2 linked regions of the Homo sapiens genome follow. The protein of the gene in region 1 interacts with the protein of each later gene in a pairwise test. Each region holds a gene or a part of one and is shown on either strand. Other genes may lie near its edges. The genes, in order: LMBRD1 and ABCD4.

Region 1 (8,191 bases):
TAAGAGTGATTTTTGTTTCTAAATTATTCAAATTGAAATATTTATAAATGAGCATGTATTCCCTTTGTAATTGTAAACAGCAAATAAAAATATTATTTTAAAAAAACTCTGGTCTGATTCAGAGGCTTCTTAGATTTAAAAACATCATTCAAGAGAATGTGTTCAGTCCTTGCTGATCTGATTTATATGTTAAATGACTAGACTTAAGAATAAAGAGAATGTTGATATGCATGCCTATACCTACCCCCCAAAATGACTTTTTCTTCTCACTCTACTCATCTTTCTGATTCAAATTACTATTCCTCTGTAACTAGTCACTCTTGTCAACAACACAGAAATATGAGGCTTTTCCGAACTGAAAGTCAAGCAACTGCCCAATACAACTTTGGCAGTCAGAGGCAGCAAAAGGGTTCGGCCAGTTTATTTAATGGACTTAATTCAATGGAGGGCACATCAGATGTTAAAAATATTTAGTCCAGATTCAGTAAAAGCTCCAATTTCACATATAATTTAAAGCAGTGGGGAAGATTTTTTATCATAATAATTTATGTGACCCAATATATCCCAAATATTATCATTTTAATATGTAATCAATATATAATTGTTAATGAAGTATATAGCTTTTGGCACTAAATCTTGGCAACTCTGTCTATATGTTAAGTTTTCAGCACATGTCAGTTCAGAGCAGCCTATTCCATGTGCTCAGCAGCCCCACGTGGCTAGTGGCTGCCACACTGAAGTGCAGCTCTGAGGGCTCTGACTCTCTTGATCTAAGGAAGGTGAAGGGCCTGAAACACTCTTTCCTGCCAGAAGTGAGGGAACAGCCTCTGCCTCCCAACAACTCTCCTCAGGCCCAAGGGTGAGAGATTTTTGCCCCTAGAAAGCAGGGTTTACAAGAAGAAAGTGTCCACAGTTACCACTGCTGCCCACCTGGCGTCCATCTTCCTTCCAGAGATCAGACAGTAAACAAAGGATGATAAGGCCCCTCAAAAAGGAAACTCAATGTCTTCAGATCTGTCTACATCCTTGATCTCCAAAGTTTAGGTATGGAGGAAATAGATTAAAGGTGAACTTCTTATTTTGCTATTTGCTATTTGGCCTTGGCCCTAATGGTCAGGCCATGGCTGTTTCCTCCTGTGGCATGGCGGACTGCGTAATTTAAGCACCAATCACATGCACACATCTACATGCATTTTGGTATAACTCACCACCATCTAACAAGAGATCCAACTTTAAATAAGGGGAAAATGAAATCTGTACCTGTCGGGTGCTTTCTGTTTGCAGGTAACTAGTAATCAACCTGTCATTGAATCCTGACATCCCATTCATACTGGGTACATATATTACTTAGCTATTGTATAACAAACCATGCAAGACTTCCTAGCTCATGATGGAGTTGCTCAGCCATTTGGGCAGGGCTCAACTGGGCCATTCTTGTGGGCTCAGGTGGGCTCCTTCAGGCATATGTGATCAGCTGCTGTTGACTAGGCGGCTCTGCTTCTGAGTGTGAGTTGGCTGTCAACTGGAGCAGTTTGGCTCTCCTCCCCATGGTATCTCATTCTCCAGCAGGCTAACATGGGCTTGCAGTCATGGAGATGGTAGGGTTCTCCAGAAATGGGACATTTCAGCAAATTTTGACTGTCCTCAAGATCCTTAGGGGAGTCTTTTTCCTTTCAGCTCCAGAACCCTCTCACTGGGTCCTGACTCTGGGCTCCCTTTCTTACCTCCAGGTGAGCAGGAGACCTGGATCCTGGTCCCCAGAAAAAACGGAGGCCCCAGGGCTTCCATGGAGGAGGGTCAGATTTTTATTTTTACTTGTCTGCATTCTAACTATGAATTCTCCCTTATATGCATAATTAAAAAGGGATTCAAGAATTTATTATATAACTCTTAGACCCCTCAGACAAATAAAATTTCTACAAATGTATTAGCAAGAGGAGAAGATTCATAAACAGATTTATTTAATGAGAACTGTTGCTGACCTGTGGAATTCCATCCTTAACTCCAAAGAGTGGTGTATTTGTGGGTGAGGTGGAGGGGTGGGTGGGTTGGAGTGGGGTGTTACCTTCTAACCCTTAGCCTAGTAAGGGAGGCCTCAAGGGAGCTACTTGGAGAATTTGAAATATGGCCCCTGAAATTGAGGACACAGAGGGCTAGTGTCTGACCCAGTAGAGAGAACTACAGTGGACTGTAGCATCAGGGGCTGACTTTCTTGGGTATAATCAAAAAGGGCTGATTCCTTTGATTGTAGAACTAGGAGAATGGAGCTACATTGGGATTGGCCTGTGCTCCCAAAGTTGTTGGTGCAAGGTATGTATCATCATTCCTACAGAGGGGATTTAGACTATTTGGGGAAAGGGGAAGAACTGGCTTGGGGTTGTCTTAGGCCTCTCCTCCAACTTAAATGAGCTTCTAGAAGAAGATTACAAGACCTCAGCAGGAAAAGGAATAATTAAGTATACCTCAGTATGCTCTGGGGCTTGTGGAGGAGATATAAGTGACTACCTGTCAGTGGCTCAAGTCCCTGCAAGTTTGTGTCTTTCCACAGTCAGACTTTTGTTGATGCTATTTCAATCATAAAAGCCATGAGCTGTATGAAGGTCCGAAGGAGGTAATTTTCCTTAGTAGTACCCATTCATTTGGTAGTCAGAACCAAGGACACAAAGCTCTAGCCACTCCACAAGTCAGTCAATATTGCAAACCAAACATAGTAGTATACATAACATATAAATATTATAGGCTAAACATTCTAAAAGAAAATAACATTTAACATCAAGAGAAAGGTTAGGAAAACAGGATTAACCAATCCAAGGAGAGCAACATGGACAAGGAGAGTGTCCTCGGCTGATCAGGATGCATATCAACATTTTGCAAGGAAGAGTCTTTGATTTGAGCAGAACCTTTGGTGGCAGATGCTAGATGCTGATCATGAGTGACAGTAAGACAGTGTCTGTTAAGATGGCTATCTTGAGCTGTTGAAGTTCTACTCTTTTTATAGCCTCAGAGTCCTCTGGTGTTGACTGATAGTAAAGAGTGTGCCTGCAATAGCAAATACTTGGAACCAACTGAAATGTCCATCAGTGATAGACTGGATTAAGAAAATGTGGCACATATACACCATGGAATACTATGCAGCCATAAAAAAGGATGAGTTCATGTTCTTTGTAGGGACATGGATGAAGCTGGAAAACATCATTCTCAGCAAACTATTGCAAGGACAGAAAACCAAACACCACATGTTCTCACTCATAGGTGGGAATTGAACAATGAGAACACTTGGACACAGGAAGGGGAACATCACACACTGGGCCCTGTTGTAGGGTGGGGGAAAGTGGGGAGGGATAGCATTAGGAGATATACCTGATGTAAGACTAGTTAATGGGTGCAGCACCTCAACATGGCACATGTATGCATATGTAACAAATCTGCACGTTGTGCACATGTACCCTAGAACTTAAAGTATAATAATAATAATAATAATAATAATAATAATAATAAAAGAGTGTGCCTGGTTATGTCGTTATCTGGTTGGGTGCAGTCTCTATTGATTAGGTGAACATCTGGTCCCTTTTGGCATGATTCCTTTTGAAATGTAAACAGAATCTTTTTCTAAGAAGTAGTTACTTATGTCAAGGGTGCTCTATACAATCTGGAATAGAGATATCAACCTGGAAGCGATACCTCTCTTCACTTTAAGGAAGCTATGACAGAGGTCTCCAGGGATATGAATTATTAGGAAGAAAGAGTGAAATTCAAACATTTGCAGGTCTAGAGGGCTTAAAGCCAGCTTATGATGGTACCAGTTCAAGTTAAAACTGTATTCTCCCCTATTCCCTTCTTATTCTGTCCAGGCAGGAAGGACCATCCTATTTTTTCCCTCAGGCTTCCAGCCGGAAGTAGATTATAGGTAGAGCATAACTCATCACCACATAATACATTGGAAAAAGATGATGGTATTTTTTCTCAGAGTTGTTTCTTGACTACATCACAGTGGTGAAACATGCACTCACACCCCTGTGGACTCAGGTAAGCCATCCCAAGAGTTTCCTCCCTGTGGACTCAGGTAAGCCATCCCAAGAGTTTCCTCCTTCTTCTTCATTGTGGGCCTATGGCAGTGTGTTTTGTTTGCTGATGCATATACCTTTACATACAAAGCTATCATGGAAATTCACAGGCATGCATACATCTGAATAGAAAGGCTATAACATCATGTGATAAGTTCATGTCCAGCCAACCAGTTATCCCGGCTGGGCACCAGTGCCAGTAAATTAGAGTGATTTGGGCAGCTAGTCAACTTTTATTCAGAGTCAGCTGTCTCATGCGTCCGTGTGAAGAGACCACCAAACAGGCTTTGTGTGAGCAACATGGCTGTTTATTTCACATGGGTGCAGGCGGGCTGAGTCCGAAAAGAGAGTCGGCAAAGGGTGGTGGGATTATCATTGGTTCTTACAGTTTTTCGGATAGGAGGTGGAGTGAAGAGCAATGTTTTGGGGGTAGGGGGTAGATCTCACAAAGTACATTCTCAAGGGTGGGGAGAATTACAAAGAAACTTCTTAAGGGTGGGGGAGATTATAAAGAACATTGATCAGTTAGGGTGGGGCAGAAACAAATCACAATGGTGGAATGTCATCAGCTAAGCTATTTTCACTTCTGTGGATCTTCAGTTGCTTCAGGCCAGCTGGATGTATACGTGAAGGTCACTGGGGATATGATGGCTTAGCTTGGGCTCAGAGGCCTGACATCAGCCATTCTTGCAACCTGGTAAGGAGTTCTGCTAATCACACACATTCCACCTTGTACACGAGGGCCAAACTTCCTTTTGGTGAAGAAGTATAAACCTCTAAAATTGACTTGGATCTCCAGGTCCACCTAGCCCATTCTTTGTGGAGTTCCCTTGCTGTTCTAGTCTATCAACTTAGGCTGAGTCAAATATCTCAATAGGTTGCCCAGCTATGAGCCAACACCCTGCTCTGCAGCCCTCCCACATCTCAGCTTGCAGGGAAGCCAGCGAGGGCAGCGTGGTGATGTCACTGCGTCCGCACGCGCCCCGCCCCTGAGCAGTCCTTGCTGCCCCGCCCCCGCTCGGCTCGCCGCCAGGGGACGCTAGTGGGTCCAGTCTCCTTGGCAACCACTTGCTCCTCCCCCTCCGCCCCTTTAACCTTTAGGGTGCGCGGGTGCAGTATATCTCGCGCTCTCTCCCCTTTCCCCCTCCCCTTTCCCCACCCCGGGCGCTCAGGTTGGTCTGGACCGGAAGCGAAGATGGCGACTTCTGGCGCGGCCTCGGCGGAGCTGGTGATCGGCTGGTGCATATTCGGCCTCTTACTACTGGTAGGGGAGGCGCTTGGAGTTTTCCCCATGTTTGGACTGGGGGAGGAAGGGAGGGGCAGGCCCTGCAGTTGGCCTCTCCGGGCCCCGGAGACCCTCTTCGCCCCGCCCCGCTTTTAGCTTGGACTGTGGAGGGCTCCTTAGTGTTGGGGGCTTGGGCGGGCGGCGGGGGCAGGGGGGTGTCGATTTCCGGTCTCTTTTGCTGTCATTTCACCGATGACGTCTAGGGTTGCAGGGTCCTTTTTGGAAGCTCTTGCCGTCATCGCTGACTTGGGCAATGGGGCCGGTGGGGTTTGGGGGCGGAAGAGACCCTCGGGGTTGAGAAGTATGTGGTGGCCTTTCGTCCCCTGTAAAACATTGTCACACGGTGTGGGGCGGCAGCGCTGGATCTTTGCAAGTTAAGTAGGCGCTGGCGTTGTTTACTTGTCACCTTCTCTGTATGTTTTTTCCCTCATTTTCCCTACCCTTGGGGCTAGTGAGTCTCCAACCTCTGTGCCCATTGTGTGATTCTGCCTTGATGACGTGAGTTGCTCGTTCTGACTTCCAGGTGTCACATTCTCTTCTAATCTTTTTTTGATTGGTGTAGATACCTGTGGAGGGCGGAGCTGTAGCCCTCTTTATTACCAGTATCGGAGTATATACTACTACCTGTCTGACCTCAGGTGCTTTCTTTTCCAACGATCTTATTTCTGCATATTCAGTGAGCAAAGTGTAGATAGAAATGTCTCAGAGTGGCCTGGCTATTACTTCCCTGTTCATATTAAAACCCTTTGGTTTATTTGGGAGTTCAATTTATTTCCTTTCATAACTTCTCTACCTTCTCAAATCTTCTCTTTTCTCATCGTCCGAGGCTGTAGTTACTTTCTGTTCTCACGTATTTTGACCTTTTTGCATTGCAAAACAAAAACCTCCAGTTCTGGAAATCAGGCTTGTTTGGTTTTACTTTAATTGTCAGATCCAGTTGGTGTCTGGTACCTATGTAGTATGTTCTAGTAGATTTTTGCAGTAGAGACTAAAAAAAGAAAATAAAAGAAAAGAATGGTGTGAAAATTTAAGAAAAGGATCCTCTTGTTACTGCCATCACTGTCACAGATAAAAACACTGCCTTTACCCTGGAACATGTTAGTCCTCTCTTGGAGGAAATGAAACCCTAAAGGTTGACTGTGGTCTCTGCAGCCACCCAGTCCTGTATTTGGAGAGCCCCCTGGCTTTTCCAGTCCATCAGATTTAGTTTGTTTAGAAAAAAATAAATAAGCATGTAATGTATGAAAGTTACGTGAGACTATCTTGGCAGTTATAAATTAATAAACATTTACGGTACAGAAGTGGTGTGAATTGTAAGAGGATGTAAACCAAACAAAATACGGCTTTAAAGAGGGCCTGAAGATAAGTGAGAAAACTGAAATTCTTGAAACATGTATTTTATGGACCGAAAGCCAAAGTGTGACTATAAATAAAGCAGGACTTAAGAGAATAGACAACAATATTGGAAGAAAATGAGAATTGTGGTAGAGTTTGGATAGATGAAGAAGAGAGGCCATTTAAGTTGGCAATATTACAGCAAGGACAAATAAAATCAGAATTGAATGTTGTCGTGGATAAAAGCATTAGGAAGAAGGACTTTTGTTTAAATTTCTGCAAATCTCTTTAAATCCTGGTTTATTAGAAGAAAGGCTGGTTTCTTTTGTTGCCTTCTACATTCAGTCTTTTGGGGTATGTTATTTTAGTCGAAGTGTATGGAGAAAATACAGCTGCAATGATAGGTAGTCAGAAACAGAGGAGCGTTTTTCAGATAATTGTGGATGTTTTTTGACACTACACCAAAGCTCAACAAGTGGAAGATTCATGTCAGCTGCAAGGTGGAATCTGAAACCCTATCAATGAGCATTTCATTCATTGTTACATTAAAATCCATTAGCCCATCTTGCACTTTGAAAGGCTCTTTTACCCATGCATGGTTTTATAACATGATGCCATGGCCACTTAGAAAATGTTGGTTTACTGAGTTATGCACATCTTTTAAATATGGATACGTTTCATTACACAATATCAAAATATCACATTTCATTAAATTACAACTGATCTTGTCAGAAATGTCTCTGAAAATTCTAAGTATTGAAGAGTTGTCAAGCTCATACTTGTGGATGTAAGTCTTTCAAAATCCAATTTTCATTTGAAAGTTTGACTCATAATTATCATTGGTATCAAATACTGTCAGTTTTTCTTTAAGTGATAGATTCCCTTTGTTCATTTGACAAAATCTGCCAAAAAGCGAAGTCTGAATAACCAGTTTGACAATTGTTCTTTCAAGTAAAAATGGTGTTCCTTGAAGAGTGGTTGGTTTAGCTTTTAACTCTAAACTTTTCCTGGAGATAGCCATCACATCTTGGTATGCAGCAGGACTTTATGTACGCATGCTTCATATTTTACCCCACAAAGTATTAAAAAGAGTCAAGGGTTGAATTTCAATAAAATGAATTTATGCTGCTTTGTGAAGCACAGTCTTAATTTAAATTGTCCCTTTTTGAACTTGTGGTGAAGAATACAATGATTACTGGTGCAGTTTGGTGCCACTGTCTTGATTCACGCTAATGCACCAGTAGTTTTACCCACTGTGGCTATGAACCATGAGTGCAAATGTCAGCACAGTGAAAAAGGCAAATAGCATCTTAGTATTTATTATGAGAATAGTTTTCAACTTCTGAATCTCCAGAAAGGATTCTGGGGACTACCAGGGCCTAGGGATTTCACACTTGGAGAACTTCTGCCAATCATCTACTAAATATTCAGGACATGGGCCAGGTGTGGTGGCTCACACCTGTAATCCCAGCACTTTGGGAGGCTGAGGCAGGTGGATCAGTTGAGC
Region 2 (7,162 bases), on another chromosome or scaffold:
AACTAGAGGCCAGGAGCGGTGGCTCCGCCCTGTAATCCTAACACTTTGGGAGGCTGAGGCAGAAGCATCGCTTGAGCTCAGGAGTTCTAGACCAGCCTGGGCAATATAGTGAGACCTCATCTCTATTTAAAAAAAAAAAAAAACTTAAAAATTAGCTAGGCATGTTGGCGCATACCTGTAGCCCCAGCTACTCAGGAGATTGAGGTGGGAGGAGTTGGAGACTGCAGTGAGCTGTGATTATTATCCCACTGCACTCTACCTGGACCACAGAGCAAGAACCTGTCAAAAAAAAAAAAAAAAACCACACATACACAGACACACACACACACACACACACAAACCAACTACACTAGAACAGTATAGGTTTTATATGGCTTGAATTTCACAGTTTTCTTAACTGCATCATCAGTATCAGAAATCTGTTCTTGGCCAGGTGCAGTGGCTCACATCTGTAATCCTAGCACTTAGGGAGGCAAAGGTGGAGGATCACTTGAGCCTAGGAATTTAAGACTAGCCTGGACAACACAGTGAGACACCTCCCCCCAACCCCTGCCTTCTCTACAAAAAAAATTTTTTTTAATTAGCTGTGTGTGATGCCAGCACCTACAGTCCCAGCTACTAAGGAGGCTGAGGTGGATCACTTGAGCCCAGGAGATGGAGGCTGCGGTCAGCTGTGATCCCACCACTGCACTCCAGCATGGGCAACAGAGCAAGACTCTGTCTCAAAAAAAAAAAAAAAATATATATATATATATATATATATATATGTATATTTTTACATATATATATTTTACATATATATTTTTACATATATTATATATATATAATCTTTAAATTTAAATTTTAAAAAATCTGTTCCTTCAGCTGGCTTCTTTGCTCCAAATTCAAAGAAATACCTTCTCTTCCTGGTTTCATTTCACCTTCTGGATCCATCCAATATTATTTAATATCAATTACCCTTTAAAATCCCAAACACTGGCCCGGCTTGGTGGCTCACACTTGTAATCCTAGTACTTTGGGAGGCCAAGGTGGGCAGATCACTTGAGGTCAGGAGTTCAAGACCAGCCTGGCCAACATGGTGAAACCCTGTCTCGACATAAAAGACAGAACTTAGCCAGGCATGGTGGCGAGTGCCTGCAGTCTCAGCTACTCAGGAGGCTGAGGCAGGAGAATTGCTTGAACCTGGGAGGCAGAGGTTGCAGTGAGCCAAGATCGTGCCATTGCGCTCCAGCCTTGGGGGACAAGTCTAAAAAAAAATCCCAAACACTAATGTACCTCATTTTCCTAACCTGAAACATCATGTTATCATCTGTGCTGCTGCTGCTGTTCTCTTTGGAAGATGATAGAGCTCTTCAAGTTTCACCAGTCTTTTGCTTCTTTACAGGTCTTTCTGGAGCAACCTGCTTTTTCCTCTTTAACTTTTTGTCAACATCACTGTCAGAACCGCTGCCAGAAGAGCTTGAAGAAGTAAGTTCCTTTGATTTGGGCATTACTCTGCTCTGCTGCACTCCAGTAGCCTCCCGCTTGCTCACTGGTAACTCTGGTGTATTACTTCTTCTTCTTCTTTTTTTTTTTTTTTTTTGAAACAGTCTCACTCTTGTCACCCAGGCTGGAGTACAATGGCACAATCTCAGTTCAATGCAACCTCCGCCTCCTGGGTTCAAGTAATTCTCCTGCCTCAGCCTCCCAAGTAGCTGGGATTACATGCACCCGCCACCACACCTGGCTAATTTTTGTACTTTTAGTAAAGACGGGATTTTGTCATGTTGGCCAGGCTGGTCTTGAACTCCTGACCTCAGGTGATTTGCCTGCTTCGGCCTCCAAAAGCGCTGGGATTACAGGCGTGAGCCACCGTGCCCAGCCTGCTACTTCTTAAAAGTTTACAGTAATAGACAATGCTGAGGCACCCTGGGACAGTAATGCCACCGAATACCAAACTAGGACATTTTTGAGACTGAAAGGGGACAAGATCTGTAAACCTAGATTACCCTAGAGAGGTGACGTTGCTTGCTTTAATACTTTGGTTGCCTTATTAATTTTTCAAAAATTGCATCCTATTTTTTTGGTTTTCAAAATAAGAAAGACATACTTGAATAAAGTTATTTCCTCTTCAAAGTCTTTCTAGATTCCACTTTTCCCCATGCTGAGTTAAATGCCTTTCTCTTTGGTTCTGGGGCAGTGGTTCTCAATGCTAGGGGGTGGGGTAAAGCTGGAATTTTGGTCCTTTCTCCCCTAAGGGACATTTGGCAATGTTTAGAGACATTTTGGGATGCCTAGGTCAGAAGGAATGCCACCGGCATCTAGTGCGTAGAGGCCTGGGATACAGCTAAACATCCTACATTGCATAGGAAAGCCTACACAGCAAAGAATGATCAGGCCCCAAAACTTAATGGCGCCAAAGTTGAGAACCCCTGCTGTATGGTATGTTTGTCATAGCACTTCATAAAGACAGCTGTAGGCCGGGCACGGTGATTCACACCTGTAATCCCAGCATTTTGAGAGGCCAAGGTGGGTGGATCACCTGAGGTCGGGAGTTCGAGACCAGCCTGACCAACATGGAGAAACCACGTCTCTACTAAAAATACAAAATTAGCCGGGTATAGTGGTGCATGCCTGTAATCCCAGCTACTCGGGAGGCTGAGGCAGGAGAATCGCTTGAACCCGGGAGGCACAGGTTGCAGTGAGCCAAGATAGCACCATTGCACTCCAGCCTGAGCCACAAGAGCGAAACTCCGTCTAAAACAAAAACAAAAACAAAAAAAGGCCAGGAGCGGTGGCTCACTCTTGTAATCCCAACACTTTGGAAAGCCAAGGCGGGCAGATCACCTGAGGTTAGGAGTTCAAGACCAGCCTGACCAATATGGAGAAACCCTGTCTCTACTAAAAATACTAAATTAGCTGGGCGTGGTGGCACATGCCTGTAATCCTAGCTACTCGGGAGGCTGAGGCAGGAGGATGGCTTCAATCCGGGAGGCTGAGGTTGCCGTGAGCCGATATCGCGCCATTGCACTCTAGCCGGGGCAACAAAAGCAACACTCCGTATCAAAAAAAAAAAAAAAAAAAAAAAAATCTGTAATTGTCAACTGATTGACCTACCCAGCTAGACTGCAACTTTCATAAAGACAAGTGATACATGCATGTTGTAGAGTGTTTGGCTTGCAGTTGAAACTTAATAAGGATTGGAGGAAAGTGAGAAGACACATCCAGATTCAAATTTAGGGACCTGTGGGATCATGCTGTTTGGGTTTTTTTTGAGCCATTTCCCACCTCCCTTTGGGTACTAATCAGTCAACTGATAAGCATTTCATTCATTCAACTATCTATCTTATCTATCGATCATTATCATCTATTTATTTGTTTTTGAGACAGGGTCTCTCTTTGTCGCCCAGGCTGGAGTGCAGTGGCACAGTCACGGCTCACTGCAGCCTTGACCTTCCGGGCCCAAGTGATTCTCCTGCCTCAGCCTCCAGAGTAGCTCGGACCACAGGCGCTCGCCACCATCCCCGGCTAATGCTTTTGTCTTTTGTAAAGGCGGGGTCTTGCCATGTTGCCCAGGCTGGTCTTGAATTCCTGGGCTCAAGCGATCCTCCCGCCTTGGCCTTCCAAAGTGCTGGGATTACAGGAGTAACCCACCGGGCCCGGCTGGAAGCCTAATTTATACTTTTTTAAAGATCATGCTGGCTTCTCTGGGAGAATATGTAAAACATCTATTATACACAGAATCTAAAATACTTGCCATAAAGTAGTTACACTCTCGGATACCTATTGTCAAAAGGGAAGTCTCCCAGAAAATATGGGGGCGCTGTAGCCGCCGGGTCAGCCGAGTCCACTCTCTGGTACTTTTAGAGACGTCGGTCGCTTCCGGGAGAGTCCGCGTCTCCCGCACCTTCCTCTCTATCAAACGCCGTCTCTGTGGTAGCCGGGGCCCCGCCCCTCCTCGGACTCTACCCAGTACTGAACTAGGGGCAGCTGGGCTCCAGAGTCCCTCGGGTCTCAGGTCATGGCGGTCGCGGGGCCCGCGCCCGGAGCTGGCGCCAGGTAAGCAGGGCGGTCGGGGAGGAGGTTTGGGAGCAGGAGTTCCGGGCTGTAGGGAATGGGCTTTCCTGCCCTCCGTGCCTCGTCCGCCGCCCTGGCGCCCCCGTCTCGCCCCCGTGACTTCTGAGAGAAAGAGGAGCTCTCGAAGGGGCGTCCGCCCTCCCGCCGCTCTAGGCCGCTCCGCACCGGCCGCGGCCCCCTCCGTTCTTGGCCGGACTTGTGCCATCTCCTGCGGTGTGGGACCCTCACCCTCGCAACTGGCATTCTTTTTTTGAAAAGAAGAACCTCAGGTGCACAAAATTGAGTTGATCCTTCTCAGTTCTTGACACCCTGTGGGCCAATGCAAGGCTCCTTGTTTATTTTATCACTTCCTCTCTTCGTTCCTATTCCCAGACCCCTTTCACTCCCCTTTTCAGACAGCCACTCTGGTGTGTTATATAAGTGGCTTTACGGTCCACCTTGGGTAAATTTGTGCAAGTGTTACTTTGAAATCTATATAGCGGTTTCGAATTCTTCAATATAATATGCTGTGATTTTTCTTTAAACCTTTTTCCTCAACATTGTGTTTTTGAGTCCATCCATGCTAGTCATCTTGTTTTCACTTCTGAGTGCTTGCATGAGGGGTGCTGTGTGCATAGACTTATTCCCCTAGTGGTGGATAGATTTTTTTCTAGTATTAACACCCCCACAAGCCACACTGTAACGAATATTCTGGCAGTTGTCTCCTTGTGCATATTGTTGCATTTCTCTGGGTATCCACCCCAGAGTTGGGTCCTGGTCATATCTAATTTTGCTGGATTGTTCTTTGGAATGGTCACACTAGTTTATACTTCCCGACGGGCAGTGCATAAAGCTTCCTGTTTCCCGGTATCCCTCCATCGTTCAGTGGCGGCTGGTTTTGTAATGTTTATCAGTCTGGGGGGTGTAAGGTGGTATCCCATCGTGTACATTTTCTTTCTTTCTTTCTTTCTTTCTTTTGAGACGGAGTTTTGCTCTTGTTGCTCGGGCAGGAATGCAGTGGCATGATCTCGGCTCACTGCAACCTCCGCCTCGGGTTCAAGCGATTCTTCTGCCTCAGCCTCCTGAGTAGCTGGGATTACAGACGCGCGCCACCACACCCAGCTAATTTTTTGTATTTTTAGCAAAGATGGGGGGGTTGGCCAGTCTGGTCTTGAACTCCTGACCTCAGGTGATCCACCCGCCTCGGCCTCCCGAAGTGCAGGGATTACACTTCCCGACGGGCAGTGCATAAAGGAATTACAGACGTGAGCCACTGCTCCCGGCCTACATTTTCATGTGTTTATTAAACGTGGGTTTTCCCTTTTTTGAATTGCCTGTTTATATCCCTTCCCACTTCTCTGTGGATTTCCTATGTTCCTGGCTTGCAGGAATTCTTGTAGGCTCTAGATTTAGATCCTGGCCATGCCCGGTGGCTCACACCTGTCATCCTATCACTTTGGGAGGCTGAGGTAGGTGGACCACTGGAGTCCAGGAGTTCAAGATCAGCCTGGGCAACATGGTGAAACCCCATCTCTACCAAAAATACAAAAATTAGCTGAGCGTGTTGACGCACGCCCGTACTCCCAGCCACTAAAAAGGCTGAGGTGGGACAGTCGCTTGAACCCGGGAGGCAGAGGTTGCCCTGAGCTGAGATCGCACCACTGCATTCCAGCCTGGGCAACAGAGCAAGACCTTGTCTCAAAAAAAAAAAAAAAAAGATTTTAGGCCAGGCGCGGTGGCTCACGCCTGTAATCCCAGCACTTTGGGAGGCCGAGGCAGGTGGATCACCGGAGGTCAGGAGTTCGAGACCAGCCTGACCAATATGATGAAACCCCGTCTCCTACTAAAAATACAAAAATTAGCCGGGCGTGGTGGCATGCACCTGTAATTGCAGCTTGTCAGGAGGCTGACACAGGAGAATCACTTGAACCAGGGAGGCGGAGGTTGCAGTGATCCGAGATTGCGCCGTTGCATTCCAGCCTGGGCAACGAGCAAAACTCCGTCTCAAAAAAATAAAGATTTCAAGTCCTTGTTGGTTTTGCACTCTGCAGATACCACCTCCAAGTCTTCTAACTTAATCTATGGCACTGTGTTGAATAAAAACATTTAACTCTAATGAAGTTAAATTCATCAGTTTTCCCCTGTATAGGTTTTTAAGGTATCTTCATTAAGACATTTTTCTACATTTCCTTCTATTAACATGATAGTGTTACTTTTCACGTTTAGATTTTTAATCCATTTGTAATTTTTTAAGTTTTTTGTTTTTGGTTTTTTTTTTTTTTTTGAGACGGAGTTTTGCTCTTGTTGCCCAGGCTCTTGTTGCAATGGCGCAATCTCAGCTCACTGCAACCTCTGCCTCCCAGGTCCAAGCAATTCTCCTGACTCAGCCTCCCGAGTAGCTGGGATTACAGGCATGAGCCACCACGCTTGGCCAAAGAATTTCCTTTGTATCCGTGGTCTGTTCCCAGCCTACCATCTTCAGCATTTGAAAACCATTCTTTCTGCATGGCCTGGACCCTCTACAGAACAATGTGGATGAGCTTAATAACTACTCCCTAAGGCTTAATTATTGTCTTGGGCTTTTCTCTGCCTCCCCACCTTCTCTTCAGGCCCAGGTTAGATCTGCAATTTCTCCAGCGGTTCCTGCAGATACTGAAGGTTTTGTTTCCTTCTTGGTCATCACAAAATGCCTTGATGTTCCTGACCCTTTTGTGCCTGACCCTACTGGGTGAGTGAGTGAGCCCAGACTAGAGGAGGGAGGGGAGCTCTGGTTTGGGGTCCCTTTCCATCTTTTTTTTTTTTTTTTTTTTTTTTGAGACAGAGTTTCTCTCTTGTTGCCCAGGCTGGAGTGCAGTGACATAATCTCAGCTCACTGCAACCTCTGCCTCCCTGGTTCAAGTGATTCTCCTGCCTTCGCCTCCTGAGTAGCTGGGATTACAAGCACCCACCACCACGCCCGACTAAACTTTGTATTTTTCAGTAAAGACAGGGTTTCACCATCTTGGCCAGGCTGATCTCGAACTCATGACCTCAGGTGATACACCCGCCTCAGCCTCCCAAAGTGCTGGGATTACAGGCGTGAGCCACCGCGCCCGGCCCCTTTTCATCTCTTTGGGGTGCTGATGAG

What was found.
Region 2: the proteins of LMBRD1 (region 1) and ABCD4 interact in binary tests that used the Homo sapiens proteins (3 or more experiments, as listed by UniProt).

What each region holds. Positions count from the first base shown.
Region 1 is NC_000006.12:69,793,950-69,802,140, reverse strand, and holds the start of LMBRD1 (lysosomal cobalamin transport escort protein LMBD1), read left to right. Parts: upstream 1-5,130; 5' UTR 5,131-5,259; coding exon 5,260-5,328; intron 5,329-5,531; exon of another isoform or gene 5,532-5,847; intron 5,848-8,191. UniProt on the Homo sapiens protein: Lysosomal membrane chaperone required to export cobalamin (vitamin B12) from the lysosome to the cytosol, allowing its conversion to cofactors. Targets ABCD4 transporter from the endoplasmic reticulum to the lysosome.
Region 2 is NC_000014.9:74,299,751-74,306,912, reverse strand, and holds the start of ABCD4 (lysosomal cobalamin transporter ABCD4), read left to right. Parts: upstream 1-3,978; 5' UTR 3,979-4,000; coding exon 4,001-4,038; intron 4,039-6,644; coding exon 6,645-6,763; intron 6,764-7,162. UniProt on the Homo sapiens protein: Lysosomal membrane protein that transports cobalamin (Vitamin B12) from the lysosomal lumen to the cytosol in an ATP-dependent manner. Targeted by LMBRD1 lysosomal chaperone from the endoplasmic reticulum to the lysosomal membrane.